4 linked regions of the Homo sapiens genome follow. The protein of the gene in region 1 purifies or fractionates together with the protein of each later gene. This does not show direct contact. Each region holds a gene or a part of one and is shown on either strand. Other genes may lie near its edges.

Region 1 (4,838 bases):
GGGTCAGAAGTTCCCACTGCCAGCTCGGAGTCATCCATCTAGGGGCTCAGAGATGTGTGAGGCAGGCAAGGAAGGGTTAAAGAAAGGTCCGGCCCCTCATCCCCCCGCCTCCCATCCCCCAGTCCTTTTTTGGAGGCAACAGATCAAATCCCAGGCTAGTCAGAGTGTGGGTGGTGTTGGACCAGGTTCGGGAGACAGCAGAGCAGGCCACCCTGCCCCAGCACTGTGGGGCCCTGAGCCAAAGCCTCTCCCCTTTCAGGGTACAGCTGGCTTTGGGGGAGGGGGCAGCAGGCCAGCCAACTTGGCTCCAAGGAAGGGAAGCTGCTTTCCCCTGGCCCTTCCCCAGCTGAGCAAGCCCACATAGGACCCTGAGCCCTGCCGCCTCTGCTCCTCTTCCTCCTCCTCCTCACCACAGGAGTGAGCCGTTCCCTGGCCACAGCACAGGAGTCCAGGGAGAGGACACTATGCCCTGCCCCGGGTGGCACCAATACCAACAGCACACACAGTCACAAAGGGAGCCACGAGGAGCTTTATTTATACATGAACGAAGGTAGATTTCCCTCACATATTACAAAATACACACAAACACACACACACACACACACACACACACATACACACTTTGCATCTAGAAAGTTCCTCAGAGGTAAGACTACTCCTGGGCTGGGGCGGGCGCACACAGGGGTGACCACTGGGCTTGTGGTCCAGGCTGCTCACTCTCCTCAGGTGCCAGCAGATGGAGAGGAAATTTTGAAAGAAGAAACCGGGAGACATCCTGGAGGTCAGGAGTCAGGAGCGGGGAACTGGAAGCCGCTAGAGGCTCTTGCACCATGTGGAGCGGATGTGAGGCACGATGCCTCATCTTTCCTCACTGCTTCCCTTGGAGGCGCCTGGGGCTGCGCCAGTCCCCAGCCCCCACTGCGGCCATGCCAAGCCCCTCAGAGTGCAGCAATGGCTTTAGCAGCCACCTGGCGGCCCAGGGGCAGGCTGAGGTCCGTGATGGCCAGAACCACCTTGGGGCTGGACATGGCTGACACCTTCACCAGTTCCGACACCTGCCACGGACAGACAGATGCTGCTTGCGGGACGGCTGGTGGTGGGTGTGCTGTCCCAGGGGGAAGGAGGCCCCTCCCTGCTCTAAGGGCTGCCCCGAGGCCCCAGCACCAGCAGGAGAGCCGGGAAGGTGGTACTCACGGTGGTGAAGGGCATGAACTGCAGGACGCTGCCACGGCCACCCTGCTCCAGGCAGTCCACACACTCCTCCATGAACCACTGCACGAACTGGGTGTGGGGGCCAGCGGTGCGAGACCCCAGGATGGAGGAGATGAGCAGGAACAGGTTGGCTGTAGAGAGTGGGGGGAGAGTGACAGGAGGGAGTTCCATGAGAGTGGGTGAGGTCACACTCTGGGAGAAGGTGGGACTGAAAAGGGAAAAGAAACACATGCTGAGCATGTCCCCAAAATGGGGTGTCAGAGAGAGAAAATATAAAAGGCAATTGGGGAGGGGAGGAGGGGGAACTAGACAGGAGCCTGGGGGCCAGGACAGCCAACAATGAGGGGCATGGAGAGGGAAGGGAGGGGCACCGCAAGGCCCCTTCCAGCTGACAAGGTCTCCCAGCCTCCATGAGAAGAGAGACTCGTCCAGCTTAGCCCCAGGTTCGGCAGCAGGGGTGGGGAACTCACCCAGGACTCGGTTCAGAGGGTCCCGCATGTTGACCGTGTGGAGCTGAGAGGCTGAGAGGGAGCTGCTCATGGATCGGTCTGCTGTGGGACGGAGCAGATGGAGCGCTGGGAAACAGCCTGCCGAGTGCAAAAGTGGTGCTCCCCGGGGATGCCCCAACCCGACCTTCACCCATCGGAGGTAACTGGTACATGGAGAGCCCAGAGAAGACCCTGAGATCAAGAGCACAAAGGGAGGCCAGGTACAGTGGCTCACACCTGTAATCCCAGCATTTTGGGAGGCCGAGGCAGGAGGATCGCTTGAGTCCAGGAGTTTGAGACCAGCCTTGGCAACTAGCGAGACCTCATCTCTACAAAAAATACAAAAATTAGCTGGGTGTGGTGCCAACGCCTGTAGTCCCAGCTCCTCGGGAGGCTGAGGCAGACTGCTTGAGCCTAGGAGAACAAGGCTGCAGTGAGCCGAGATGGTGCCACTGCACTCCAGCCTGAGCAACAGAGCAAAACCGTGTCTCAGAAAAACAGGCTGGGCGTGGTGGCTCACGCCTGTAATCCCAGCACTTTGGGAGGCCAAGGCGGGTGGATCATCTGAGTTCAGGAGTTCGAGACCAGCCTGACCAATATGGTGAAACCCCGTCTCTACTAAAAATACAAAAATTAGCCAGGCGTTGTGGCAGGCGCCTGTAGTCCCAGAGACTCAGGAGGCTGAGACAGGAAAATTGCTTAAACCCAGGAGGCGGAGGTTGCAGTAAGCTGAGATCGTGCGACTGCACTCCAGCCTGGGCAACAGAGGGAGACTCCAACTCAAACAAACAAACAAACAAACAAACAAAAAACAAAACAAAAAAAGGGCACAGAGGGACCTCAGATACAGAGATCCCAATGGAATGAGAGAGAAAAACTAACATGTGGTGAGCACACAGGGCCAGGGGCCGATCTTGGTACTTCCTAAGCTGCTTACTCCTCACAACACCCCATTTACAGATGAGGAGACCCAGACGGGGGCTGGCTCAGTCGCTAGCTAAAGGTCACAGCACTTGTAGCTGGCAAACCTAGCATCTTTCTTCTGATCAAGTGTATAGTTGGTCCCCTAGTTCCTAAAAGGCTTCAGAGAAAAGTTCAGGCTCAGGAGAAATCTCTGGAAACAGGAAAAATGCCACAGAAGGAACCCTTGGCAGTAAGCCTGGCAGGGAGGAGGGGACAGTGAAAAGGATGACCTCCAGGGAAGTGGTTGGTGGGGGGTGTGCTCTTTAGGCAGGAAGGTGGGGAGTAGCCCCATGCCCCAGCCCGGGCCTCTCCGGGCATGTTTTGGGGGAAGGAAGGAAGGAAGGTCAGAGCTGGTGAGTCAATGGCACAGGCTGTGCCTGAGGCAGTGAACTCACTCACTTGGGTAGCTTGTCATCCCCTCAACCCTGGGGTAAGGGAGGGGCAGGAGGGCTGTGGGGGAACAACTGTGGGCTGGGCTGGACCTGGGCAGAGGAGCTTCAACCCTCAGGGAGTGAGAACAGCAACCTCTTCTCCAGGGGCAGGACACAGAGCACCCCCTTGGGGGCTAGAACAGCAGGTCCCTGCCACACCCTCTCTGACCAGCTGCAAAGATGCCTGCAGCTGGGGCAGCGGCAGAGTGGCAGCATCGGGGAGTGAATTCCCAGGAAAAGGAGCGGCGCGCGGCCAGCCCACACACTCACTGGGGCTCGAAAGGATGTTGGCATCGTCCTCATTAGAGCTCAGCAGTCGCATCAACTTCGAAGGCTGCACATCGTCCAGGGGGAAGAGGCTGATATAATCCTAGAGGGAGTGAAAGTCACTGTTATACACCCCTAAACCCCCCAGTTTCCAGCTGTCAGGGAAAAGAGCTTGAGCTCCGATTTGAGCGAGGTCAGCATGGCTAGCAGGGCCTCAGCCCCTCTCTGCTCAACCCCTCCCACAATCTGACAGGCCCCTTGTGCCCATGGGCAAGCTGGGGCCACACAAATCACCCATGCAGATTCCTGACCAATCATGCCCAGGCACAGCTGCCCCAAGGGCAGGGGCCACAACTGCTTCCCTTTGCCTGGGGAATCCTTAGGAAATGCTGTAACAAACCGGTGAACAAGTGAAGCCGGCGAGGGCAGCTGGGGGGCCTACCTCAATGTCTTCGCGGTGTCTCTTCTTCTGGCGGGTGGACGCCTGTCCCTTGTGGGAGGAGTAGGAACTGAGGGCACACCACACGGCCAGCCTGGCAAAGGGTTCCAGAAAAAGGGGGACAGTGAGAGGTGCCCCAGGAGCTTTCTGTGTCTGACTGGGCTCCCCAAAGCCCAGTCTCCCAGGGTGGCACCAGGCGAGGGGTGCTTGACCCTGGGTGGCCGGAGCAGGGCAAGCTCTGAAGAGAATCTTACTTGGCAAGAGCAGTGCCCGGGGGGTCCATGAGGCTGTGCCACTTGGAGGAGTCAGTGAGCAGGCCAGGTAGGATGTGGCCCAGCAGGACCAGGGTCACTTGCTGCATGTCCAGGCAGAAGATGGAGTAGAGCAGCTCCACTGCCCGCAGCGTGTGCTCCTTCCGCGTCTCCTTCAGCAGCTCCTAGTGCGCAGGAAAGGGGGCAGTTCAGGAGCCAGGGGCCCGGGATCTGGGGCTCCTACACCCTGCCACCCCAGCATGGCTGTCCAGTAAGGCCCGCAGAGGGGGCCCCAGATGTTGCTCCGCCCCTCAGGCTGAATCCCAGTCTCTGGCCAGAGCTCCCCAAGGAGGCAACTCTGAGGCGAGGCATTCCGGGGAGGCCACCTGGCTCACGGCAGCCTCTCAGGGAAGCCTGGCAGACCAGGCCAGGTGTGGGGAGCCAGGGGACAGGACCCATGTCGGCCCACAGCCACTCCAGCCCAAGTACCTTAATCAGGTTGTTGCAGAACCAGTAGACGCCGCCCATGTGCAGCAGGGTGTCAAAGATGTGGATGGAGCGGCTGTCCACCCAGCCCTTCTCCAGCACCTTGGCAAAAATGTCCGTCAGCACCTCTTTGATGGGCCGCTTGGGGGGCAGCAGGTTCCAGTAGGGCATTGTGTCCACCCCGGTGGAGGGAAACTTGATCTGCGTGGCTGTCTGCTGCAGCACGTCGGCACACATGCGCTCCAGGATCGAGTTCATGATCACCACCCTGGGGGAGGGCCGAGAGAACCTGAGGCTCAGG
Region 2 (7,033 bases), on another chromosome or scaffold:
ATGTGTTTCTTCTTATTCAGAAAAAACAATGACTTAAACACATACCTTATAGGAAAGCCAATCCTGGAGCTTATCATTAAGAAATATCAATTGGATGAGTGTTCCCAGTGATGTGTGACTGTGCGTGTCCTTGCAGGTATGCCAACAGTAGCCTCATAAAGTACATGGAGAAACACAAGGTCAAGCCTGACAGCAAAGTGTTCCTCTTGGTAGGTGCTTCTCTCCCAGACTAAAATCTGATTCTCAGCACAAATCTCGCCTTCTATTTACTCAGCTATTCCTCCTCTTTAGAAACAAAAGAAATTAGTGGATGCTGGGGTAAAATTAAATATTTTTTTTGTTGAGATGTCACCCTGTCTTTCAGCCTTCACTTTAAATGATTTATCAGCAGAAAATGAACTTTATAAGGGCTTTAATGCTGATGATTTCTGCCAATTTCACATAAAAGTATGTAGTATGCATAATCTGCAGTGAGCTACACCAAATGTATTTTATATTAATCCTGTTACACAGTAATACAAAAGACAAGGTGTTGACTTGTAAATAACCTTTTCATGTGCTGTACATTTCCTGTGTGTCACTCTAGCTTCAGAAACTCCTGACCATGGATCCAACCAAGAGAATTACCTCGGAGCAAGCTCTGCAGGATCCCTATTTTCAGGAGGACCCTTTGCCAACATTAGAGTATGTATCCTGTCTTTTCTGTGTCCTTTGCTCCAGGCTGAGGAGGCTGCATGGTGGTTGAAAGCAAGGGAAGCACTTGCTACTGAAGTATTTAACTTTTTCAATGATACCACCTAAAGACTGCTCAAGAGCAAGCTTCCACATTTTGAAACAGGCAAAGCTGCAGAGAGGGATGAATGAAAACAAGTATTTTAGGAACGACCATTTGTCAGTTTTACAGATGAAAACTAAAGCTGATAACAGATAAGACCTTTACAGACCAATTGGCCAGATCAGAAATTCAGCCAAACCAGTAGGCAACAGAAGTTAATCTGTCTTTCAGAGCATGTCCACTGCACTACAAAACCTCTCTACTCCTTCATCCTTCTTAACCCCAAGTATAGACTTTGTGTTTTCATCTATAAGAGGTGTAGTTTTTCTTGTTAAGGCAAATACAAATTAAGTTATTTTTGGCGCTAATGAAGTTAGTATAGAGAAACTTCTGTGTCCTATATGTCAACTAGCTAGCAGCAGTCAAGATTTGAACACTAGCCACAGATGAAGAGTAGGAAATAAGTGAAGAAAAACAAATTGGAATTTTAAATTAACAAGGTAATGATATTACAGATTTTAGATCATGATATGTTTTTTCTTTTTAATGATTTTTAGTGTATTTGCCGGCTGCCAGATTCCATACCCCAAACGAGAATTCCTTAATGAAGATGATCCTGAAGAAAAAGGTGACAAGGTATAAACTGCACGGTATACTTTCACTTCCAAAGAGCAAGGGAGGCAAAAAGATAGTTTAGGTATCGTTCCATAATTCCTATACATTTAACCACCTTTTCTAATATTTAATTAAATTTGAATGTATCTTATTTTCTGTGGAAGTTTGGGGATTGTAAAGGTACCTTGAAGTTTGAAGTATGACCAGCTCACAGATACCTGAGCTTCCGGTGTGTGTTACAGCCAGTTCTACTCCCGGATTCCCACTTCTTGCTCTTTCTGTTTGTTTGGTGTCACTACCACCCCTTTATGCAGGCTGGCTTTTGCTAGCATCACTCTGTTCTTTCGTCTTAACTGGATATATTGGCTCACTCTCCAGACCGCTCTGCCTTTCCAGAATCACGATTGAAAAGATTTCTTCTAGCTGTTTTAATGAGCTATAAGAAATGTATTTCTAATGTGCCTGTGGCCTTCAGTGAGATGTCTGTGACTGATTTGGAGGATCACTGTGCAGTCTAAATGAACTTCAGGGAAAGAGTCCTGTTTGGGGCTCAGCGCCTTGCCCTTTGGGAACACTGTGTTCCCTGGCTGCTCCATTCTCCAGTCCTCCCCATCACTCTAGTGTCCCACATAGATTGCTCCCCCAGGTTGGTCAGCAGCCACATGTGCATATCAAATAATTAAAGAAAGCTCCTGTTAATTTGGTTTCATACCAAGCTTGCTTTTTTCCCCTTAAAAGAATCAGCAACAGCAGCAGAACCAGCATCAGCAGCCCACAGCCCCTCCACAGCAGGCAGCAGCCCCTCCACAGGCGCCCCCACCACAGCAGAACAGCACCCAGACCAACGGGACCGCAGGTGGGGCTGGGGCCGGGGTCGGGGGCACCGGAGCAGGGTTGCAGCACAGCCAGGACTCCAGCCTGAACCAGGTGCCTCCAAACAAGAAGCCACGGCTAGGGCCTTCAGGCGCAAACTCAGGTGGACCTGTGATGCCCTCGGATTATCAGGTACTCCCTGAATGTCTAATGTTCATATGCTTTATGAAGTGGGGAAAAGATTTATCCTAGATCCTTTTAGAGTTAAGTAACACTTAACTCTTACATTTGACTGTGCAATCCTGTTTCTAGGGCATTCTATGAAGAGGAAGATTTTCATCATATTTCATGTAATTGTAAGATATCTCGTATTCTGACTTGTTTATCCTGACACCCGAGGAGAGGAAGGTAGGGAGGCCAGTGCCCCCATCCTTAAAGAAAATTTCATCATTTTACCCTTATAGCTGCCTTAGCAGTTCTGGTGTATCAGAAAAAGATACGTAGATACGCAGTTGAAAAGGGAAGGGGAGTGGTGTCTTACTTTGGACAAAATTAATTGCATTCTTTAGAAAGATATGCTCTTTCTGGGAGGAAGTAGCTACATAGATAAAGAAGAGAAGGGGGCTAAGACTGAGGCTTTTCTGAAATAACTGTTAAGTCTCATTAGAAATAATTTTGAGACTAGAAAATACTTTTTGTTATTCAGATAAAAAGAGAACACCAATTGCAGTGCTAATTCAGGAAATTAAAGGAGCTAAGTCTAAGGATTGGTATTTGGAGAGAGGTAAAAATACCCATTGTGATAACCATAGGAAATTTTGAAAAAAAAATTTTTTTTCAAGGTAGTAACAAGTTAAGAAACCATCTAGGAAGAAGGGAAAACTTAAGTTTTTTGTTTGTTTGTTTTTTTGTTTGTTTTAAGTTTAGAACCACAGTCCCTCCGGGAACTCTTGCAGATGAGTGCATAGGATAGAGATAATAGAAAACAAAACCTCTGGCAAGGGAACCATAAACTCACTGATAAGGAACTGCAATAAAGAGAAACTTTAACAAGAAAGACATAACAAATAGCTGCATAAACTGCCTTCACATTTTGAATAGCTCAACAAACTAATGTGTTTCCACACAACTACTCTGAAAAACTTCTCTTCAGAATATCCCTGCAAGCAGAAGAGTACATAATACTTCCACTTGGTTCCAATTAAACAAATTTAGGCTTCAGTTTGATCTACTAAAAACAGCTTGCTAGCTGGGTAGTAGCATGAGCATATTTGAATTTTGTTATAAAATCTGTTTCCCCTCCATTATATGAGCAACAAATGCTTACTATATACTGGTTCATCTTTGTGTGTCTGATTGAATTATATTAACCTGTGTTAAAAAATAATAATAATTTGCCTAAACACTTGTTAAAGTTGGTAAGGCAGACTTTATTCAAGGCGGGGCCATGTTAGTGCATAAAGGGACCACTGCAACAGGGGCTGGCAGTTGGGGAGGAAGACTGGACTCAATTCAGACTCCTACATGACAAGTGGAGAGGTATAGCCAAAGAGCAGGGTGGGGATCAGTGGATGGAAAGTTACCAAGAGGAAACATCCAGGATAAAAGGTCTCTGGCTAAACTGACTGCATAGTATTAGGCTGAAGGGAGGCCTGGGTAATAAGCTTTTAAAGGTGGGGGATTTTTGCCAAGCCAACTTAGCAAGATTCTTGCTCTAACAGGATTCTCCAAGGACAGAGGAAAGCCCAAGGTCAGGCCTAGTCAAGCAGAAGACTCACAGAGCTCCCTCCAACACGACCCTGTAAAACTTCCCTCCAGCCTCTTTGCAGACAACACCTCCTCTACTGTGCTGCCCCAGGCAACAACATGTTTTCATACCTTCTGTAATAAACCTGCCTTTCTTTACCCAAAACCATCTTGGTTAAAACCTTGACTGCCTGAGAGCAGCCTGACTGCAGTTTTTGTCAAAGGAAAGAGTCTTTGTCACCCAATTGTAGTCAATTATAGACAGATTACTGTATTTCTTTTTTTCCCCAAATTCAAACATTCTTTGAAATGCTTTTCTATGTCCATATTGTTCTGTTGACTTAAAAATAAACCTTTCATAGCTGAGTCCTGATGTCTGTGGAAAAAAATAATAAACCTTCCAACATATCTATTAAATGAATAGATACAGCTATTTAGTTGGAGAGACTGGCATGAGGGGCAGTCAGGTGTCCCATTACACCGAACTTGCAACTCATACACCATCTAGGGGCCAAGGGAAAAACTTTCCTTTCACTCTCTGAAAGTTCGCTGAAAAATCAACTCACAAAAGGCAGGTTAATTGGAGAAAATGTCATGGGTGTGACTAGCTAGGGCCAGTGTCTCAGGCAGTCAAGGTTTTTACTAAGAGTTCTGGGTAAAGAAAGGCAGATTTATTACAGAATGTATGAAAACATGTTGTTGCAACAGACAGCATAGCAGAGGGAGGGGCTGTCTGCAAAGAGCAGGGGCTGGAAGGAAGTTTTACAGGGTCTTGCGGGAGGGAGCTATGTGCCAAATGAGGTCATTGTGCCCACCAGTTGTTTGTGACTAGCAGTGTCTCAGAACAATTGTTCATTGTTTTTCCCCACCTGGAGCCCCTTCCTCCTTGTTGCTTACTTATCAGGACAGAAAGGCATACAACTTTGATACCAGTGGGCTGAGGGAGGTCCCCAGATGCTGGTGGGACCTCAACCCCACCCTGTGTCCAGGCTCCTAACACCATCGGGAGAAGGAATTAAAGGATGAGTCAAAAATAGCAAAAGTATGGAGATTTATTGCAGAGGGAAAAGTACACAACTCAAGAAAGGGGAGTGTGGGTATACGCAAGAGAGAATCTGGCTGGGGACAGTGGCTCATGCCTGTAATCCCAACACTTTGGGAGGCTGAGGCGGGTGGATCACCTGAGGTCAGGAGTTCAAGACCATCCTGGCCAACATGGCAAAACCTCGTCTCTACTAAAAATATAAAAATTAGCTGGTTGTGGTGGTGCAAGCCTGTAATCCCAACTACTTGGGAGGCTGAGGCAGGATAATTGCTTGAACCTGGGAGGCAGAGGTGCAGTGAGCCGAGATCGCGCCACTGCACTCCAGCCTGGGTGACAGAGTGAGACTCCATCTGAAAAAAAATAAATGAATAGAGAGTCATGCAGTCTGGTTTGGGTTTCTATCTTTATGGGTTTCTTTAACCAAAGGGTGGAATATTCATGAAAATTCCTGGAAAAAGGGGGAGATTTCTTGGAACTGTGGTGCCACCCATTTTTATGCCAAATATGGATGTTCTTGGAACTGTCATGGTGCTGGTGAGTGTGTGATTTAGAATGTTAATGAGCATATAATGATGTCCTAGGTTTTTAAGCAGAAATTCAAAGTGTGTTTCATGTAGTCTTTTTTTTTTTTTTTTTTTTTTTTTTTTTGAGACAGAGTCTCACTGTGTCACCCAGGCTGGAGTGCGGTGACGTGATCTTGGCTCACTACAACCTCCACCTCCTGGGTTCAAGTGATTCTCATGCCTCAGCCTCCCAAGTAGCTGAGACTACAGGCATGTATCACCACTCCCGGCTAATTTGTGTGTGTGTGTGTGTGTGTGTGTGTGTGTGTGTGTGTGTGTATATATATATAAATAATTTTATTATTATTATTATTTTTTTAAGTAAAGACAGGGTTTCGCCATGTTGGTCAGGCTGGTCTCAAACTCCTGACCTCAAGTCATCCACCTTCCTTGGCCTCCTAAAGTGTTGGGACTACAGGCGTGAGCCACTGTGCCCGGCCAGAAATTGTCCATTTTTATGGTTTAGGGTCAACAAAGTGTAGACAGCCATGTAGAAACATGATTGGACAGAAGGGGTATGATCTGATGCTAATAGACTGAGGGGGAAACCCAACATGGCCTGTCTAGGTTCCTGTTGGTCTCTCTAAGCGTGCATTCCTGCCTCTGGGTGTGGGGCAGGACCCCCTCTGGGACAGGAGTCTCATGACCTACAGTCAGACAGGATATGCCAGATCATTTCTTTATGTCCAGTTTTTACACAGAAAGGTAGGGGGAAGTTAGAGTAATATTTTTAGGTTTCACAGCTGGTGTTGGGGAAGTGGGGTTCTGGTTTCTATGGCTTGCCTTAGGGAAGGGGAATTCTAGTTTCTATGGCTGGCTCTGAGGAGAATGGGACTGTGAGACAAGAGGGCACAAAAAGGTCAGAGAAAAACTTTTGCTCCTGAGGCCTTCATTTTGGGGTATTGTTTTCTGTGCCCCAACAGTTCCATTAGTAGAGTTTCAAGGCTTTTGAGCTGCTTCATCAATGTATTGTAAGCAAGTACAATTAGCGCTTTGAAAAGCGGGACATTGGCTTATTTTCTGTCTAAAAAACCCTTTGTCATTAAAAAAGCTATGTTACAGCACATTAGATTCTTACATGTTTACATTATACTTTATGGCAAAATTGCCCCAAATAACGTATGAGTTGAAAGAACATTTTTCATAATAAACTTCAAAATAAAACACGTAATTAAAATTTGGAATTTTTAAAGACTTCTGTAACCAATGTGACTATTCAGTTGTGCAACTTAGGAAGGGGCAAAACTAAGTTTTGTTTTGTTTTTTTTTTTTTGAGATGGAGTCTCCCTCTGTCGCCCAGGCTAGAGTGCAGTGGCGCCAATCTTGACTCACTACAACTTCTGACTCCTGGGTTCAAGCGATTCTCCTGCCTCAGCCTCCCGAGTAGCTGGAACTACAGGGACCCACCACCATGCCTGGCTAATTTTTGTATTTTTAGTAGAGATGGGGTTTCACCATGTTGGCCAGACTGGTCTT
Region 3 (7,033 bases), on another chromosome or scaffold:
TAATATAGCTATTTCATAGTATTTCTCTTTCAGGTATACCAACTGCAGCCTTATCAAGTATATGGAAAAACATAAAGTTAAACCAGATAGTAAAGCATTCCACTTGGTAAGCATTGGTTAACAGTATTAATGAAATGCATTTTTTCCTTAATTGACTAGCCCAACTGAGGCTTTTTTGGATCAATTTATGTGGTTACTTAGCTAGCACTCAGAGTGCTTTCATGGTAAATGCAGAGATCTTGTTAGTGCATACCAATAAAGACAATAAACTATTTGCTCTTCCAGACTCATATCATGGTTTGACAGACTAATGTTTGGTCACATTAGATTTTCTAAAGATAGCGATGGTAACAAATCTGTCAAAACATTTATAAAATTACATGTATTGTTTTTCGTCTGTTTAAGATTTTAAAAGTTCCAGAGAAGTATCAAGAAGAAAGTACTTCTCACCATTGATAAATAGATTGTTTTGTATTTCAGCTCTTTGAAAGACTGTTTACAAAGTTCTTAATTTCCAAAATACCTCTTATAACCTTAAATGTTAACAGTCATTCAGCGATTATATGTGCTATTTGATTTTTCTGGAAGAATGTGATAGATGCCATATTTATCAGTGTGTAATGGAAAAATGATTTAACCTAGAATCTAATTGAATCCGTGCACTAACAAGGTAATTTGTGATGAAATTATATACAGCCATTACCAACTTTGTTTACAATAAAATTTCCATTGTTACAGCGTAATAATTAATAATGTTTTTTGTTTTAGAAAAAGGTTTATAACACATAGAAGGGGAGTTTGGGGAAGCAGGTTGTATTTTGCTTGGCTTGAAATTCTTTTAATCCTTATTCCTAAGTTCTTAAATGAGAATTCTTTCACCTTGAAGAGGTTAACCTTTCCTTTATTGCAACCAGGCCATTTGGCAAACATTTCTTCTGTTCTTCCTTTGTTTCTCCTTTTTCTTCGCTTTCTACTGCTTCTCCTTCTGTATTTTCTACTTACTATTATATCAGTTCACATTTTATATCATGTATTTCATATCTTAACAGCAATTTAAAAAGTCATTCTTAACCTGTCATATTACCACACAATATATTATCCAGATAATGGTTTATTATAATGTACTTACAGTAGGACCCAAATTAGAGGTCTAAGTTAGATCCTTCGAAATTATGGACTTACTGATTCTAATAAAATAATGATAGTGGCAGAAGATTAGAAGTCATGACTTAGGGGAATTATTATTCTCCTTGATTCCCTGCTACTCATTATAGTCTAGGATGACTCTGCCTACCATCACCACTAAAACTCTAGAGATATACCTTCCTTGTAGCTTATGTGCTTGTTTTTACCAGGGTGACCCATCTTAATTGGAGGTAATCTTGAGTAGTCTCTTAGGAAAGCCCTATTATAATTCCATTAAAACTGTTGGGTATTTTCAATAGCAAATTCAGGCCTTTCCTTTCAACCCTAAAAATAAAATTGTGCTTTCTCTGAAATATCAGATCATTAAAATTAAATTTTAATCTCACCATTCTAGCGTTTTATTTGCATCTTAAAATATGTCGTGTCGGCCTGGCGTGGTAGCTCACGCCTGTGATCCCAGCACTTTGGGAGGCCGAGGCGGGCGGATCACAAGGTCAGGAGATTGAGACCATCCTGGCCAATGTGGTGAAACTCCTAAAAATACAAAAAGTAGCTGAGTGTGGTGGTACATGCCTGTAGTCCCAGCTACTCGGGAGGTTGAGGCAGGAGAATCGCTTGAACCCAGGAGGTGGAGGTTGCAGTGAGCCTAGATCGTGCCACTGCACTCTAGCCTGGCAACAAAGCAAGACTCTATCTCAAAAAAAAAAAAAAATGTCTTTTTATCCTGTAAAATTTGTCATCTTTCTTTAAGTCTTTTTTGTTGGAGACACAGTTTCATTGTGTCACCAGGCTAGAGTGCAGTGGTGTGATCTTGGCTCACTGCAACCTCTGCCTCCCAGGTTCAAGCCATTCTCATGCCTCAGCCTCCCGAGTACCTGGGATTACAGGCGCCTGCCACCACACCCAGCTAATTTTTGTATTATTAGTAGAGATGGGGTTTCACCATGTTGACCAGGCTGGTCTCGAACTCCTGACCTCAGGTGATCCATCCACCTTGGCCTCCCAAAGTGCTGGGATTACAGGTGTGAGCCACCACACCTGGCCTCTCTTTTAAGTCTTAATGTGTCTGTTAGTTCATTGGTTTTCAAAATGCAGTCTCAGTCCAGCAGCATGGTATCATGTAGGGCCATGTTGGAAATGCAGGCTTTTGGCTCCTACTCACATCTACCAATCAGAAACTCTGTGAGGAGGGCCCAGCAGTCTGTTTTAAGAAGTTCTCCAGGTGATTCTCATGCATCCTAAAGTCCGAAAGCCACTGCATTAGATCAGAGTATAAACTAAGAGACCACATATTAGAATCCAATTGAATGAACTATGTCTTAACTAAAAAATACTGAATCTTCACATTAGTGTGGCATTTATAGTAATAATAACAATAAGAGCAAGCACTTACATAGTACTTTCTTTATGCTAGGCACCATTATAATTGCTCTCCATATATTAACTCATTTAATCCTGAAAACAACCTGTGATAATAGTCACCATTTTTAATCTCCATTTGACAAATGAGGTAACAAAAATATTAAGGTAACTTATCCAATGTCACGCAGCTAATAAATGTTGAGTCAGGATTTGAATGGAGCAGTCGACTTTCAGAGTCTCTGCTCATCACACAGCTCTGTACTTTGTAAGTTGTGTATCACCATTTTTATTTAGACTAGAACAGCACTGCACAGTACCACTTTCTGTGATGATCTGCACAGTGCAGTAGCGTAGCCACTAGCCACATTTGGCTCTTGAAATGTGCCTGGTGTAATGGGGAGATTGACTTTTTTATTTAATTCAGTTTTGATTAACTTGGATCTAAATATGAATCACTGCATGTGTTAGTGTATTATATGTGTAACAACAGCTTTTTTATCTTAATAGAAAAAGAATAGAAAATACACAAATTTTGGTCCTGTTCTAAATTGGATAAAGCCATTTAGATAATGGGGGTGGGGATCCATTTGTTTAGTCAGAGAACATAAGCAAGAGTAAAACAAGTGAGATTATGAAACTGGAATGACTAAAGTGTGAATTACTACATTAAATTTAACAACTAGGAGTTTTGTTGTTAATTTGGGGGAATAAATATTTTCCAAATTGTGATGTTATTCACCAAAAAATATATATCGTCTTCACATATGTGCTGAAAGATAACTGTGAGAAGCAATACCGTCATGTTTGTATGATTTGTGATTTCAGCTTCAGAAGCTGCTTACCATGGACCCAATAAAGCGAATTACCTCAGAACAGGCTATGCAGGACCCCTATTTCTTAGAAGACCCACTTCCTACATCAGAGTAAGTGGCCTAGTTGGTTAACTCATCAGCATGATGGAAGTTTTGGAGTATGCTTTCTTCTGCTTGTCAGCTCTTAAGTTGCTCCTCCTCTTATATGGGAACCCAAGGAAATCCTTTATGACAAGCAAAAATGAGCTTTGCTGATTAAAGTGTCATTTAGGGGCTTTCCAGTTAAGAGGCATTCCTGTTCATCTCTTGCTTTATGAAATGCTGATCACATTAGTTTCAGTAGTGATCCAGCTATTCAGTGACAGGTTGGTTATGCGTGCTGTAGCTCCTTACTGTCTGCAGTTACAGTTTCATGTTCCAAAATTGCAAATATTCCCAAATGTGTTCCCTATACCATCTTTTGTTTTGTTAATAAATGTAGTAGGAAGGGTAAAACAAAAATTACCTTTGAATGGTGACACATACTTCAGCTAGAATCTATATTTGGTCTGTATTAATAGAAGAGTAATGCTGGGATAAAAGAAGAAAGCTGAATCATACTCGATGATTATTGATCATTTGTATACAGCTCAAGCCCTCAAGTAGCCTGCTGTAATATTACTAGTTACAAAGAAAAGATTCGTTTTGTCACAGTTACATGAAAGGTGCTTATATTTGCAAATATGGAGACAAAGTTCATCTTAAAAGATTAAAATGAGAATCTCCTAAATGAAGCATTTGGAATATTGATTAGTATACCAGAAATGGTTTTTCTTTTTCTTATGATCAGCGTTTTTGCCGGTTGTCAAATCCCTTACCCAAAACGAGAATTTTTAACGGAAGAAGAACCTGATGACAAAGGAGACAAAGTAAGTATTAAAGTACTGTTAGCAGCTTCTTGTTTCGTGAATGCCTCCATAACATTTTCCATTGTGGGTATATTTTGTTCTCCCTCTGAGCTGAACTTTTTCTGTTTAACCAATTGAGAAGAACCAGCAGCAGCAGCAGGGCAATAACCACACTAATGGAACTGGCCACCCAGGGAATCAAGACAGCAGTCACACACAGGGACCCCCGTTGAAGAAAGTGAGAGTTGTTCCTCCTACCACTACCTCAGGTGGACTTATCATGACCTCAGACTATCAGGTATTCCAAGTTTATTTTGTATTGACTGCATGTCAGTGTTTACATATGGGTTTATGATCGTGGGAAAATGTGATTTAATTGAGAAATACTGACGTCTGTATACCCAGGGAAATACATTAACATGAAATGTTACTGGCATGGAAAAGTACTGACAGTGGTATGGTAGCAAGGGTTTAGACTTTTGAACCAGACTTGGAATGATCAAATACAAATTATGCCATTTATTAACTGTGTGACCTTGGACAAGTAGGATAATATCTCCTGGCGTTTTTTCATCTGTAAAATGAAACTAGTAAAACCTAACTTGCAGCTGTTGTCAGATTAGACATGAAGTGGCTTGACACCTAGCTTATGGTAGGAGCTTGATAGCTATTGTTTTGGAACAATGTTTCACAGTGATTAAGAACATAGGCTTTCAGATCCCAGTCTGGCCACTTACTTCTCTGTATCCTTGAGTAAGTGATTCAGATGTTCTCAGTTTCCATTTGTAGACTGGATAATGATCAATGTGAAGCTGTAGTAAGGATTAAATGAGATAACTCTGGGAGGTTAAGTGTTGCAGCCATTTCAGGAAACTGAGGCTTGTAGAGGTTAAATAACTTTCACATGGATCCCCAGCAAGCTGTAGATGCAGGACTCATATTTGATCTGACCACAAAGGCTGTTATGTTGCCTGCTTAGGGATCCTATCATGGCATTGTCAGTTACGTTGTGGAAAGACCCTCTTTGAAAATTGTATACCACCTCCTTTTCTCTTCTGCTTATTCTAACCATATTCCCAACTACACAAGGGTTCAGTGTGGGAAGGATACTGAAAATCTGACCAATTAGAATTATTTACACACAAAAAAAAAGAGAGAGAGAAAGAGATGTTATTAAACTGATAAGGTCCCGAGTGCTCGTTACTGTACTTTCAGAATTAGGTATTAACTCTTTCTTTTGGTTAGGGGAGAAGTCCAGCCCATCACACCATGGAAATCACTGTTGTGTGAGTAGTAATTCTCTTCCAGTTAGCTAAACAAGGACACCAAGGGCAGACAGCTGTGGGAGTTGTTGGTTCCAGTATCTTTTTCTTCCTTTCCGGATGGGAAGAGTGCATCTCTCTTGGCCCACAAATGTGTTTGCACACTAAGGTGATGGCATCCTTAGAAGGAAGCAGAGCAGTGCTCTGACCTTCGCTTCTGGAACCGAGAAAATGATGCCATGCTGCTTTGTTGGTGTGATTGTTGTTGGTTTTTTGTGGATGAATTTTAAAATAGTATTTGTGACTATCATTTCATGTGTCCACTCTTTTTAAAAATGTTACCTTTTCTAGGATTGGCAGAATTTGGAATTATATGTCTTATTAAATATGCTTTGAAAGACAGAAGTAATAAGTTCTGGTTAATCTTTTATAGTGTTTGTCTTGGGAGCAAATAGTATGAGAGAGAGGTGTGAGAATGGGAATAATAATCTAACATATCAAAATTAGAGAACCCCAAACCATCACATTCTTTCTCTTTGTGCCATTTTAGAATTGAGAATACCGTCCTTCTTACTGTGGTTATATTTTTACTTTTGTATATAAACTTGTAGCAGAAAATAAGATTCAGTAGCTTAAAGGGGCCAGGCACTGTGGCTCATGCCCGTAATCCCAGTGGTTTAGAAGGCTGAGGGGAAGGATCACTTGAGGCCTGGAGTTTGAAATCAACCTGGGCAACATAGCAAGACTCTGTTCCTTCAAAAAAAATTTTTAAAAATTAGCTGAGCATGGAGGTGCATGCCTATAATCCTAGCAATGATTATACCATTACACTCCAGCCTGGATGATAGAGTGACACCCTGTCTCAAAAGAAAAAAAAAATAGTTTAAAGGGCATAAAAATGTATTAATGCCAAAGAAATGGATTCTGTGATACCTTCTCCTATCATACTCACTTTTACTCTTCAGTCATGTGTGTGGGGGTGAGTTTTCTACTGAAGAAAGCATGTAAATAAGCTTTGAATTTTTTATGTATACATCATTAAGTTTCTGGGTAAACATCTCAAGCAAATTTACCAAGTAGATACAAAACAGCATAAAAAGGGGTTACTCCTGTAGAAAAAAATGTATTTGCACAGCATAGTAATAAGCCTAGGCTTAATATTATTTACTAGCAATATTTCTGACCTTCCTCAAGAGAAGAGGATGTTAAAATATTTGGGGTTTTTGTCTTTAATTATAAAGTTAGTACATAGCACAAAACCTATACATCCTTTCTTCCTTGAAACATAATGACACTTCAGTCACATATTGGGATTGAGCTTCCCCTAGAAGCACCTGAATCACACTTTTCCCTCATCTCCTTTCCAGCGTTCCAATCCACATGCTGCCTATCCCAACCCTGGACCAAGCACATCACAGCCGCAGAGCAGCATGGGATACTCAGCTACCTCCCAGCAGCCTCCACAGTACTCACATCAGACACATCGGTACTGAGCTGCATCGGAATCTTGTCCATGCACTGTTGCGAATGCTGCAGGGCTGACTGTGCAGCTCTCTGCGGGAAC
Region 4 (7,033 bases), about 23 Mb from region 1:
GAACAGGAAGATTACTTGGAAGTCTGTTTAAGAAGCAGGTCCCCACAGTCCTGTCCCACCTCCCATCCCCTCCAAGCGGCCGGGTGACTACCCTTCTTCCAACTTGGCAGATGGTTAAAAGGTTACTCTCCCGAGATTTATTCTTAGGAAGGAATAAGCCAGAGAGTACCTTGACTGTGGGACACCAGGCACACTGCAGGGGTAGGTAGGGGGAGCCATACTGAAAAGAGGGATTAAGAGAAAGTTCACAGTCTGAAGAGAGACACCACCCGAGCCTTCCCCCACCTGGCTTCTAGATTGGCAGCCAAAGAGAGTGGAAGTGCCCTCTCTATGGTGCGTGACCAATTAAGAGAAAAGACATTGGAAAAAAAAAAAGCCTAGTCAATTAATTCTGAGAAAATGAACAAGCATCACTCATTTGCAGAGCTTCCACTAAGCCTTTTAGTGTTTTATTCTTAAATATATGAGTGGATGGCCAAGGTCACTAAGCATAGGAAGAAACCCCCTGGTAAGAAAGACACGGGTCAGGCGCGGTGCCTCATGTCTGTCTGCAAGCCCAGCACCTGGGCAGGCTGAGATGGGAGGATAGCTTGAACCCAGGGAGCTGAGGCTACGGTGAGCCATGATCGCACTGCTACACTTCAGCCTGGGTGACATAGACTCTGTCTCAAAGAAGAAAGAAAGAAAGAGAGGAGACAGAGAGAGAGAGGAAAAAAGAGAAAGACAAGACAGAAGAGCAGAAAAAGCCACGTGGAGGAAACAGTAGCCACAAAGGAATGGAGTGGTTCTGCAGCTGTAAACATGAGAAGAGGCTAGGATCCAACCTGCAAACCTTCAGTATAGGCGTGTCTTTGAGTTTATAGGCAAATGAGGGAGGAATAAGGGCAGAGGAGGAAGGGAGAGGAGACCTCGTGAAGCCTGGGGGAGTCAGAAGGCTTGGTAAGAGTGATGCCAACAATGAGTCTTCAATTAGGAAAGGGAGGCAGGAGGAATGTTGGTATAGGAAAAACATGTAAGGACACGAAGCCAAGAAATAGCATCTACTCATGGGAGTCAGCTTCTAGCTTGGTGGTGTTGAGCATACATCCAAGGCAGGAAGAGGTGGCTGGGGAGGAGGGAAGAGCCAGGAAACAGAGTGCAGGTGTCTTCTGAGGGATGGGGAGCTAGTGAAACTGTCAGGCTGGAAGCCAGTCAAGACACAGTACTGGCGGGTGGAGATGAGGGCTGGGACCATGTCCGGTCCACCCAGGTGGCGCTCTCTGGCCCTGGGTCCCTTCCTTTCCTATAACTTCCCCAATGATCCTTTTATTCTTTGTTTACTTCTTGCACAGGGGTGAGTAAGGAGGTAAAATCTGAAGTAGTGAATTTAGCCTTTCTTGTTCTCATAAAGAATTCAGAGTTTTTGAAAAATTATTTAATAAAAGTAACAACTGCAAGTTTAGAAGTACAGAGAAACGTAAAATGGAAAATGTGTTCCTTCCCCCAAGTCCCCTCACCTGTAGTAACTGCTGTTAATACTTTCCTAAGTTCCTTCTGGGAATTACATATGAATGTCATTTCAAAAATTTATACAAATTGAGATCACGTCGTACTTGACTTTTTTCACTGATTAGTCTCTTTTGGCCACCTTTCCATACTGCACATAAAGATCTACCTCATTAAGGCAGCTGCAGAAAATTGCATCTTGTGGATGCAGCATAACTGATGGAACTGGTTTTCTGTTGATGGTCTTCTAGCTGTTTTTCTTATTCTTGCTATTACCAGCACAGTGCTGGGGTTAGCATCTTTGTGTAGGAGTAAGTTTATGATCAGATAAATCCCAGCAGTAGAATTGCTGGGGCATAGGGTACAAACATTTTTTATAGTGATAGTTATGCTAAATTTAGAGCACTACGTCTTTTTAGCTAACTCTTTTCCAAAATTCAGTCCTTGTAGACTAGACTGCTTCAGTTAACCTAAAATGGCCTATAAATCTGCCACCCAGAAAGCATTAAACAAAAATTAAAGTTGTAGACGGATTCTACAAGTACCCATGGATATGAAATGGAAACAGGGCCTCTCCCTTCACTCCTCCCAGCTCCCTTGCAAAGCTGTGTAATATTCCACTTTATGAACGTGCTGTCGTTTATGTAAACAGTTTCTTGCTCAAGGACACCGTCATTGTTTCTGCATTTTGCTGTTGGAATCAGCACTGCAGCAAGCATCTTTGCCCATGCTATCTTGGTGAACTCTTGGTAGTCTCTGTGGGGGTAAATTTCTAGCAATGGGATATGTGAATCTGTTTGGGTCACTATGAGCAAAGAATGCCCTGATCTATGCTTCCACCAACAGTTTTTGTGTCTTTCCCCATCACCTGCCATCACCATTAAACTTTTAACTTTGGCAAATCTCATAGGTCAGAAATGATATATTGATCTTTCATTAAGTTAGGTAAAGCATCCCTTCATAGGCGATTTTATATGTCACTTTTATTTTTCCCTATAAACTGTCCATTTCTCTGTTAGATTTTTTTATGTACAGAAAGGAAATAATGTGTGTCAAATGTACTGTAAATACTTCCTCCAGGTTGTTGCTTTTCTTTTGACTTTGTTCATAGTCATGGTTTTTCTATTTGTTTTTCATTCAGATGCATATAATTTCATGTAGTCAGATTTGTTAGGCCTTTCCCTTATGGCTTCTGAGTTTTGGTCCTACTTAGAAAGGCTTTCCCACTCTAAAATTATAGGTATTGATCTCTTTTTTCTAGAACTTTCATGGTTCCATTTTTTACTTGTAATTCTTTGAGGCTCCTGGAATTTATTTTGGTGGGAAGAATAAGGGGGCCTCGGTTAGCCACATCTTCCCACTGCTGTTTTTGAATATTTGTTATTTTCCCTGCTTGCAGTGCCACCTTTACCATGCACTGAATTCCCACATGTTTTCTGATCTACTTATGGACATTCTCTCCTTCTCCAGCACCAAACTATTTTAGTTCTTAAATCTTCATGGTACATTTAATTATCTTTTAAGGTTAATTTTTCACCCTTCCTCTTTCTTGTCAGTATTTCCCTGGCCCTTCCTTTCCCGTGGAGTTTTCTAGCAGCCTGCCTGATGCTAGATCATGATGCTTTTGTTAATGGAACATTTCGTCTTTAATCTGCTTCTTTACTTCCAAGCCTGTTGATACTACTCATTGGCCAGGTCGTTGAGCCTCGCTTTTGAGTATTATAATCAGCATTTAATTAGTCTCTTTGCCTTTATGCTTATTTTATCTTGTGAATGTTATTTGGCTAATTTTTCTTTGTTCTCCATTCTTCTCAAATTGAGCCCAAACTTAGGCCTTTACTCAGGGATCTCTGCAGACCATTTTCAGATTGTCTGCCTGAATAACCCAACACAAAGCCCACAGAGGGTCCTCTTGCTGCAGGTGCTGTTGGGTGGGCGGAGTCCTCCAGGCTGGCAGACCCTCCAGCCCCTCCACTAGAAGTGCCCACAGAAATGCTGCACAGAGCCCTGTGAACCAGAGCCTCTCCTGTACCCCCAGGGACCCACCTGGTTCTGGGAGTGCTCTGGCTGGGACAGCCCTGCTTGGAGTTGGAACCCATAGCACTTTCATCTCTTCTAGTGTCTTTCCCGCAGTTGAATGAAAAATTAAACTACACATTTATGTTATTTTTAAAGAATGAGGAAAGGGAGGCTGGGCACGGTGGCTCACACCTGTAATCCCAGCACTTTGGGAGGCCGAGGCGGGTGGATCACGAGGTCAGGAGATCGAGACCATCCTGGCCAACACGGTGAAACCCTGTCTCTGCTAAAAATACAAAAATTAGCTGGATGTGGTGGTGCACGCCTGTAATCCCAGCTACTAGGGAGGCTGAGGCAGGAGAATCGCTTGAACCCGGGAGGCGGAGGTTGCAGTGAGCCACGATCGCACCATTGCACTCCAGCCTGGCGACAGAGCGAGACTCCATCTCAAAAAAAAAAAAAAGAATGAGGAAAGGGAAAAGAAATCCCATTTTCATGCCTATAAGAAATATTATAAATCCCAACTTTGAGACTTTCTTGATATATATAGATGCTACATTTTAAAAATGCATCATAAAGGAGTAATGAAATGGGGTCTGTTAGATTGGGGAAAATTATTATTTTTTCCTTCAAACTTAACAAATTTGAATCTGAGTTTGGAATGAAGTAGCTCAGCCTAGGCCTTCTGAATTACAGTTGTTGCTGCCTTGCGTGATGGTTTTGGCTCACTTTGTAAGAGTAATCTGTCGACATTGGGTACTTTAAAAACATTTTTTAAATTCAATGTTTTAATTCTTTACAAGGTCTAAGGCTGCTAGGTAGGTAGAGGGGAGCCGTCCTTGCCACCACAGATGGGGCTCAAGTGATGAGCACGCTGTCTGGCCCCTCCAGCTTGGCCTGGCCGCTTCAGCAGGTCAGCAAGACCTCAGAGCCCCAGCCAGACCTCTTTTGTGGGAACAGGGTGTTATTGACTGTCTTCTTCCCACTCAAGTATCTATTTTAATCTGCCCTGGCCTTCCATGCCAGCTGAGACCCGTTCCCGGGTTGTGCAGGAAGCGGCCCCCGCTAAGTGCCCACACTGGCTTCCCGGGGATAGTCCGCATGCAGTTACTGCAGGCCTCTGCCGTTCACTTTCTTCTCCCTCAGCCACACCCCAGGGAGCAGGATGAGCAGCCACAGATAGGGGGTGTTCATAGACTGCTCAGATGAGGTGTTTCCAGTCTGCCTAAAAGCCTCTTCACTCCTCTGCCATGTCATTTCCATCCACTCAGTATGACTTATAACCAGAAGGTGGGCCCCAGCAGAGGCAAGCCCCACGAAGGCAGGCCTTCGCGAGTCAGCACTTCCTTAGTGGGCGTGAGAAATGCCAGGCAAGCATTTACGTGGGTCCTGGGAAGGGTGGGAAGCTTTGCCTAGGAAGGCTGGAAGCACTTGTGGTGGCACTGGGGGGGTCTCCTTCACAGTTTGAATTTGCCTGAAAGGTGTTATCTGTGGGTAGGAGGCCATCTGGAATTATTTTATTTTATTTTTTATTTTTGAAATGGAGTCTCACTCTGTCGCCCAGGCTGGAGTACAGTGGCGTGTCTTGGCTCACTGCAATCTCTGGCTCCCAGGTTCACTTGAATCACTTGATTTCCGTGCCTCAGCCTCCCAAGTAGCTGGGACTACAGGCACACGCCACCATGCCTTTGTAAAAAACAAAACAAAAAAAAATTGTATTTTTAGTAGAGACAGGGTTTCGTCTCTGTCTACAGGCACACGCCACCACGCCTTTGTAAAAATACAAAAAAAAATTTTTTTTTTGTATTTTTAGTAGAGACGGGGCTGGCCTCAAGTGATCTGCTGACTTCAGCCTCCCAAAGTGCTGGGATTACAGGCGTGAGCCACCGGCCGCCATCTGGGATTTTTAAGCAGCATAGTGACCTGCTCAGACTTGGGTTTCTAAAGGTAGGTGGGGCAGAAGTGTTTCAGAAGAGGGGAGGACCTGGGTCCACAGGAAGGCAGTGGCAATGGGAGGTGGCTGGTCTAGAGGAGATGGAGCTGGCAGGATGGTGGCTGGAAGAAGGGGGCACACAGGTGCAAGCCTGGGGGTCCTAGCGTGGCCAGTAGAGTGTGTAGGTGGGACTGCACCCTCCCCCCGTCCCCTGCTGACAGCAAGTCTATGCTGGATATTTGCCATCTGCCAGACTCCAGGCAGGAATGACTTGGTAACTGTGGAGGGAGGAAACTCAAGTACAGGAAGGAAGGCTGACTGGGGAGGTGGTCCCCGTGTCGAGGGTTCGGGAGTGGATGAACACGTTCTGGGCATTTTGTAGTGCAGTGATTTTCATACTCCGTTTAGCAGCAGCACCTTTTGTCACTCTTTGCTAAAAAGAATATTTTTTACATGTAATGCTGTTAGCAGATGAAAGCAAGGGTGTGAGTTCAAGGCCTCCCTCTCCGGAAGGCCTCATAGGTCTTGGCAGAACTGGAGCAGAGAAACACAGTTGATAGGTAAGTAGTAGCCAGTATCATCCAGGGCGGGATGGAGAAGTGTGTCCTCCGTGGCTACAGATAATCTACATCAGTACAGTTTTTTTTTTGGAGGGCATTTTGGTAATATCTGTCAAAAATTTAAATATATATAACCTTTGACCCAGAATCCCTACTTTTAGAAAATGATCTTACCAAAATACTTGCACAAGTGAGAGGTGACAGCGTGCTGGCAGTCCTCAGAGCCCTCACTTGCTCTCGGCACCTCCTCTGCCTGGGCTCCCACTTTGGCAGCACTTGAGGAGCCCTTCAGCCCACCACTGCACTGTGGGAGCCCCTTTCTGGGCTGGCCAAGGCTGGAGCCCACTCTCTCAGCTTGCAGGGAGGTGTGGAGGGAGAGGCGCGAGCGGGAACCAGGGCTGCGTGCGGCGCTTGCGGGCCAGCTGGAGTTCCGGCTGGGCGTGGGCTTGGCAAGCCCCGCACTCGGAGCAGCCGGCCAGCTCTGCTGGCCCCGTGCAATGAGGGACTTAGCACCCGGGCCAGCAGCTGCGGAGGGTGTACTGGGTCCCCCAGCAGTGCCAGCCCACCGGCGCTAAGCTCGATTTCTCGCCAGGCCTTAGCTGCCTTCCCGCGCAGCAGGGCTCGGGACCTGCAGCCCGCCATGCCTGAGCCTCCCACCCACTCCATGGGCTCCTGTGCGGCCCCAGCCTCCCTGACGAGCACCACCCCCTGCTCCAGGGCGCCCAGTCCCATCAGCCACCCAAGGGCTGAGGAAAGCAAGCGTACGTGCAGGACTGGTAGGCAGCTCCACCTGCAGCCCCGGTGCGGGATCCACTAGGTGAAGCCAGCGGGGCTCCTGAGTCTGGTGGGGACGTGGAGAGTCTTTATGTCTAGCTCAGGGATTGTAAATACACCAGTCAGCACCCTGTGTTTAGCTCAAGGTTTGTGAGTGCACCAATCTACACTCTGTATCTAGCTGCTCTGGTGGGGACGTGGAGAACCTTTATGTCTAGCTCAGGGATTGTAAATACACCAATCGGCACTCTGTATCTAGCTC

What was found.
Region 2: the proteins of MED24 (region 1) and CDK19 purify together in Homo sapiens (affinity purification with mass spectrometry; 8 studies listed by BioGRID and IntAct, with this or other methods). This does not show direct contact.
Region 3: the proteins of MED24 (region 1) and CDK8 purify together in Homo sapiens (affinity purification with mass spectrometry; 15 studies listed by BioGRID and IntAct, with this or other methods). This does not show direct contact.
Region 4: the proteins of MED24 (region 1) and MED9 purify together in Homo sapiens (affinity purification with mass spectrometry; 5 studies listed by BioGRID and IntAct, with this or other methods). This does not show direct contact.

Annotation. Positions count from the first base shown.
Region 1 is NC_000017.11:40,018,591-40,023,428, forward strand, and holds the end of MED24 (mediator of RNA polymerase II transcription subunit 24), read right to left. Parts: intron 4,806-4,838; coding exon 4,541-4,805; intron 4,237-4,540; coding exon 4,055-4,236; intron 3,895-4,054; coding exon 3,804-3,894; intron 3,465-3,803; coding exon 3,365-3,464; intron 1,764-3,364; coding exon 1,683-1,763; intron 1,344-1,682; coding exon 1,195-1,343; intron 1,056-1,194; coding exon 939-1,055; 3' UTR 514-938; downstream 1-513. UniProt on the Homo sapiens protein: Component of the Mediator complex, a coactivator involved in the regulated transcription of nearly all RNA polymerase II-dependent genes.
Region 2 is NC_000006.12:110,616,466-110,623,498, reverse strand, and holds part of CDK19 (cyclin-dependent kinase 19), read left to right. Parts: intron 1-20; coding exon of another isoform or gene 21-111; exon of another isoform or gene 112-130; intron 131-136; coding exon 137-209; intron 210-586; coding exon 587-684; intron 685-1,332; coding exon 1,333-1,411; intron 1,412-2,128; coding exon 2,129-2,395; intron 2,396-7,033.
Region 3 is NC_000013.11:26,397,120-26,404,152, forward strand, and holds part of CDK8 (cyclin-dependent kinase 8), read left to right. Parts: intron 1-33; coding exon 34-106; intron 107-3,333; coding exon 3,334-3,431; intron 3,432-4,149; coding exon 4,150-4,228; intron 4,229-4,346; coding exon 4,347-4,505; intron 4,506-6,836; coding exon 6,837-6,962; 3' UTR 6,963-7,033.
Region 4 is NC_000017.11:17,479,983-17,487,015, forward strand, and holds part of MED9 (mediator of RNA polymerase II transcription subunit 9), read left to right. Parts: intron 1-7,033.